Linked DNA regions of Homo sapiens: region 2 is reported to be linked to region 1. Evidence: microRNA targets listed by miRTarBase, many of them from high-throughput screens and not tested one by one. Region 1 holds a microRNA gene; the other region holds the end of a gene's coding sequence.

Region 1 (3,192 bases):
TTGACATCCACTAACAAAGTTAGTGAAGAGGAGAAAAAGCAATGGAGAAGTCAGTGGGGGAGGCCTAAACTTTTTTGAAATCTAATTCTGTTGCCCAGTTATCATATTCATCTAACTTTCTCATCCCCTCACATAGATCTAGAGTTTATGGGTTTAGTGGATTGCAGCATGTTTTGTAACTGCGTTTCTTTGTATGATGACACTCTACCACAAGACTGAAATAATCTCTTTAAAAATTGCCACACAATGGCACCAAACCTAATAAAAATCATTATAATTAGATATCTGCATCTTTTTTCTTCTAAAGGCATTAGTAACCAAGTAGAAAACTTGCACATAGCCTCTAAACCAAGATCCTCAAGATTGTAAATTAACCCTTTAATTAACGTTAGCATAAAATAAGATAGTCCAGAATGCAAGCAACACATTTCTACAGCATGTATCTAAACTGATAGCACCGTTACCACCAAAATGATAAAGGTAATAACGTTTTCCACAAATTAGAGAAAATATTGCCAAGTGATTTTTTAAAAATAAATAGTTATTTGAAACCCTTTAGTGTTCTCAAAACACTGTAAAAGTCTAAAGTCAATTCAGAGGTCAAATATATTCTTCCCCAAACTAATACAGTGCTGAAACAAGACAAAATCTGGCTGGAAGATATAGGTTTCTCTAATTCTTCTCCCACAGACTTTAAATAGGCCATGAGATAAACCAAAGAACATGTAACCATCCACAATACGGGGGAATTTAATTCTTTCTCCAATCTGACAGGATGCTAGCAGTGTCAGCATTGGTATTCTTAGGATGTCTGTGATTGGTGCTAATCCTTGGCAAGAACTGCACTTTTCTCATAGGTTATAAAAATGGTACATATTGTGTATATATTACATACATGTATCTGTATACATTCCATATGCATAACATAGATTCAGTGCAGAAATCAGATCACGGAGCAGGCATCTATGAGTAGCAGCAAGGAGCACGTGCTCTTTACATGACCTACTTACAGAAGGCAGAGTCTCCCCGTCAGGCAGTCTTCAGCATGACAATTAGCAGTTTTTCCTGCAGTTTGGTCAGCAGGAATGACACAAACCTCTCCCTAGCACAAGCCACTCAGCCCTGTCGGGTTCGTGCTGCTCTTTGGATAACGGCATTCCATTAGGAGTGTGACACAGTAGGGAAAGAGACCGGTTCACTGTGAGACCTGCTACTCACTCTCGTACAGTGTATCGGCCCCCCTTCCCACTGCACAGTGGCTGCCGGGCTCTGGGCAGGAGGCATGTGGCCATCATGAAAGTGAACCATGGAGTCAGAGTTCCACCGAGACACGCTGGATTGTCAATAGCCTTCTTCTAAAGGCAGTATCTTTTAGCACGATATTGAAACAACCTAATTTGGTTCCCTAGCCTTAAGAACAGAGGAAGCACTCTCTTCAAATTGAAAAGAAAAAAAAAATTAAAAGAAGGTATGAACTAGAAAGGTACGGACATGGTTGACTTTCTGCTTTAACAGAAGAAGGATCAAAAAATAATTTATGGAGACTGTTTAACATGCATGCCAGGGATGCTAGTCTGACATATGCTTCACCTTCTTGTACCTACTACTTTTCCACACAGAGTCAATCAAATGCTTTGTTATCTTCTCTGGGTAGAGAAAATGTGCTGGTTTAAATTGCCAAGCTTGGACACTCATCCAAAGAGTACAAGATTCACCAGCAAAAATAACTGGGTTGAGAAGCAAATGGGAAACAGATTCCAAGTACCTGCTTGCTGTGCTGCCTGTGGCATCTGTTGACTCCTCTGAGCGTTGTACTGAACCGGGGCCATGGGCCGGTACTGTTGCGTGGTTGAGGTAGGGTACTGACCAGATGGGTAATAATATACAGGCATCTGTGGAAGAAAGGAGGAAGAAAGCAGAGAATGAAAATGTAGATAATGTAAATTTTTAAACTTAAAATATGCTTTCGTCTTATAATTGTGGTAGGTTGTGAAGATGGCCACCGCAAACTTCTCCCATGCCTATGTGTATGTGCATGCTACTTCTCCCGTAAAGAGGCAAAATCCATTTCCCAAACTTAAATCTGAGCTGGTTCTGTGACTTTCTTTTACCAACGCCATGAGGCAGAAATGATGTCTGAGTCTTTCAAGTCTGATCCTAAAGAAGACTTGCAGCTTCCACGTCTGTAGGCGGGGAACCCAGCCAAGAGATAAAGAAGTCTAGACTATTCTGCTGCAGAAAAAGGCCATGTGGGGAACACAGGTACCCCCAATTGACTGGTTACCCTCCAGTTCCAGGCATGTAAGTGTAGCCCTAGTCAAGCCACCCCAGCCATATGGAGCAGAGATGAGCCATCTGTGATAAATCCTGCTCAATTGCTGACCTAGTCGTGATCATACAATGGTTGTTTTAAAACAAGACTTTTGTGTTTTTTAGATGAAACAAGAGAGAGTGAAACAGTTATCATCAACAACGAAAACCTACATTTTAAATATTATATCTAACTTGAATTGCTTTTCTAATGGAAACAGGGGTGAAACATGAAAACTGCTGATCTGTAGCCTAAAAGGAGCAGAGAATGCAATCATGAAATATGGTAGTCTATCAAAGCACATTGCAGAATGATTGGTACACACCACTATTCAAAAAAGTATGTTCAATCTAAAAGGGAAAATATGATAAAAATGTTGTTTATGCTACCTTCTTAACTTTCTTATGACTGAGAATGAATAAAATTATTCTGATTATTTGATTATGATCCAAATCAAATGTTTCCTGATCTGATAGACTTCTTTGCCTGCCTCAGTTCATTTATATTAAGGTCACTTTCTTACTGATCTTAGTTAATTATTTTCTATCTCTGGGCTTCTGAGTTTTCGCCTATCATATTCTCTAAAATAACAACTGAAGTACCCTAGTAGACCGCCTACAAACATTATATACATAGGATAAAATTACAAGTCAATTATTTGAGAACTGTGATTTTCATGGTTATTTTGTTTTCTGATTTGCTCAGGTCTAATAGGAAACACTTTTCTATTTCAATATTGCTGTTGAAACATATGTAACATATTTTGCTGCCTGAGGATAAAGTGGGAACAAAATATAACTTAATCTGTGTGAACCTGTAGCTCTGCAATTTCATGGAATCATGATGAATTATAACTGTGGCTACATAACATATGGATATTC
Region 2 (3,000 bases), not on the chromosome of region 1:
CTGTTCTGAGCTGAGAGCTGCCGAGGGTGGGAGGGGGCAGGGGGCAGCCACTCGGCGCCAGGTCCTCCTTCCTGGGCTTTCCAGTTGTACCCGGTTAATAGGGCCCAGCTCCCAAGCCTCTTGTAGAGTGATCTTACTACCCTCTGTTTTACAGATGAGGAAACAGAGACTCAGAGAGATTGCAGGTAAGCAGCAGAGCCCAGATTCAGACCTAGGCAAGTCTGACTTCACGGGCTGAGTTTTCTCGCTCTGCCAGGTGGGGCTGGAGTGTGACAGGGATCCCAGGTCTGGGGCTGTATGTGGGCAGTGGTCTGGTGAGAGGGAGCCCCACAGTGGGATTTTCCTGAACCTCACACCTTCATCAGGGAAGCAGACGTGCGACTGGGGGCCCTGCTGTCCCGGCCCAGCCGCACGTTCAGGTCCCGTATCTGTGCAAATGGGGTTGAAAAGGGAGGTGACAGGTGCTGGCATGTGGACAATTGCCCCCACAGCTTGCATGGTAATGTGCTAGAGCTCGAGCTGGAAGCAGGTGCACAGAATGTCCCTGGGCCTCTGAGGACAGGGTGAGACCATCCTCACCCTCCTTGGTTACCTGACCTGAGCAGGGTGGGGACCCGTGGCTGCTGCTCACACCACTTTGGTGGCTAAGTTTTGTGCTCAGTGTTCTCCCGATGTCAACTTGAGAAACCCTGGATCCTCTGCCTCTGTTCTTCCTGCTCCCGACCTCCTCCTCACGCCCTTATTGCAGATGAGATGGGCTGGGCCAGGCTAGGCTGGGCCTGGATTCTTCTTTTGGGTTGGGGCCCGGGAAAACACAGGCAACTGTGCAGGGAAGTGGTGTCTCTTGGGGACAAACAGGCTGTGGGGTGTGCCATGGCTGAACACGTCTCCATGCCTCGGGAGCTGCTGTGGGCCTTCCTGGGGCCAAAGGCACTGCTGTCCCCATTCTGGGAACCAAGCCCCACACCCTGACCTTACCTAGGGCTTTGACACAGTCTTCCTGGGACCAGGCCTCACCTAGAGGCCCCCTAGTGAGTCACAGCTGGCAGCTGTCCTTGCCTGCTCCGTTCCCATCTCCTCCACCTTCTTGCCTCTGAACTTGACACCATTGGTGGAAGGGTCTGGACACTGCACCTGACCAACTGTGCTGTCACGCTGGGGTGAGAGCAGGTTACAGATCAGAACACCTGGGCTGGGCCACCCACCCCTTCCTGCCTTTGTGTTCTTGGCAAGTCACCTCACCTCTCTGACCTCAGCTTAACTCACGGAGCTGAGCTGAGCATCAGTTAAGGGGCCTTGGAGCTGCAAAAGGGGCCCACATATTACCAGCATCTCTCCATCCCCCAAAGATGCTCCCAGTGGCCAGACTTCCCTCTTGTAAGGTCACCAAAGCAAATGACACTACCCACCTCCCTCCCTCCCCCATCATAACCCAAACGAATCACACAAGAAGGGCAGTTGATACTATGAGCTTTTAATTGGTATCTTCCTCCTTATATTTGAGGAAGAAATGAGGACGCCCCACAAGGACCTTCTTCAGCTTGGAGGGGCAGGGACAGAATAGGGCAGAGGAGGGTAGTGGGGGCAGATGCAGAGCTGACAGTGGGGTTTCCCAATCCTCTCTCTAGCGGCCGGAGGGCCAGGATCACACAGGAAGCCTGGAAACACAAAAAAATCATCGACGAGCTGCCCCATCCTTTGCCCAGGTCTCACAAAGAGCCTCCTTCCAGGTTCCCGTGGGTTCCTGAGGCCGCCACCAGATGGGAGCATCGAGCAATGTTCCTTTTCCTTCTCCAGCCACCTCCCTCCTCTCTCAGTCCTTTACTACCCCCTTCCCTGCCTGCTTTTTCATCTTCCTTCATTTCTCCTGCTACCAAACAGATCCCGGGGCTTTTGTCTGATCTATGTCCAAGGAAGCCAGTGGCATATGAAAGCACACCATCCATCAGACAGAAACTCCAGACAGTTGTGAGTCCAGCGGAGGGGTGTGTCTGGGGGCCCTGGGATGAGGGTATCTGTGTTGGGGCTCTAAGAACTGGGCAGTGACTAACATCTCTCTGTGGTCCTGGCACCCAGTAAGCATTCAGAGAACATCCACTGAGTTGAACTGAACTAGATCGACAAACCAGTGCAGCCAAGGAGAAGAAATACGTATTCTGCTGGTGCCGTGGTGGCCTCAGAGGCAAGCCGACCACCACCCAAAGGCACCCGTTTCAGCAGCTTCCATTCAGGGCAAGTCATATGCTGGGCTGGACTCTGCCGCCAGCTTGCTATTGCCCATGCCCCTAACTCCGAGTGGCCTCTGCTCACAGCAATCGAGGAGGCTGTGGGAAAGGTGTCCCATGAGTCCCTGGGCCCTCCTATCTCTCCCCACCTACCCCCTTTGCAAGCCAATCCATTCAACACTTCCTGTGACCAGCACACAGCGGCCATCTCTTAAACCCTTGCTGGGAGACTGGCTAGGGGAGGGTGACTGGGAGAGCCAGGGGTGTGGGGCCAGTGAGGGGAGGAGGAGAATATCTGAGCAAGCTGGTGGTCACGAGTAACTTCCATGTGTCCACTGACTTCTCCTCTTGTCCCCCTCAGCTAAAAAAGATATGAACCCCTTATTGAACCCAAAGAATAGATGCTGATCTGAGACCTTCTGTGGCTTTTTCTGTGACACGTCGGTTGATGTTTCCCTGCTGTCCCAAGCCTGTCTAATCTGACCTCGCCCAGTTTGCTGAGAGGCATTGGGGTGGATAGGTGGAAGAAGGCCAGGGAGGGGGCAGGGAGGGGTGGGGGGCTTCAGTGCAAGCCAAGAAACTCCTTGAGGACGTCACAGGTCTTCTTGTGCATGACCTCACGAAGCTTCCTGACCCGGCGGGCACTCGATGCGCCCACAAAGCTATCGGGGCGCAGCATGGCCATGCCGCCGTCCACCTCCCCCATGATGATGAGCGGCATCTCGCTCACGGTCACGTTGGGGCAGGGGCATGCCCAGTCCACGTGAAGCAGAGT

Evidence for each region. The annotated mature microRNA hsa-miR-128-2-5p reads GGGGGCCGAUACACUGUACGAGA and lies in region 1 at 1,219-1,241, opposite strand. An mRNA with a match to its seed (bases 2 to 7 or 8) in the 3' UTR can be bound and repressed. Matches are read on the target gene's strand: a 7mer-m8 pairs with bases 2 to 8, a 7mer-A1 pairs with bases 2 to 7 and ends in A, and an 8mer does both.
Region 2: the mRNA of WFIKKN2 is a reported target of hsa-miR-128-2-5p. Seed matches in the 3' UTR shown: 7mer-A1 at 2,492-2,498.

What each region holds. Positions count from the first base shown.
Region 1 is chr3:35,742,539-35,745,730 of GRCh38, reverse strand. MIR128-2 (microRNA 128-2) reads right to left here and starts at 1,255; the gene lies at 1,172-1,255. ARPP21 (cAMP regulated phosphoprotein 21) reads right to left here. Exons shown (of 21, transcript NM_001385562.1): 19 at 1,766-1,892.
Region 2 is chr17:50,840,807-50,843,806 of GRCh38, reverse strand. WFIKKN2 (WAP, follistatin/kazal, immunoglobulin, kunitz and netrin domain containing 2) reads right to left here. Exons shown (of 2, transcript NM_175575.6): 2 at 1,454-3,000. The coding sequence ends at 2,788. Among named protein-coding and RNA genes, the nearest start is that of WFIKKN2, 6.7 kb to the right of the region's middle.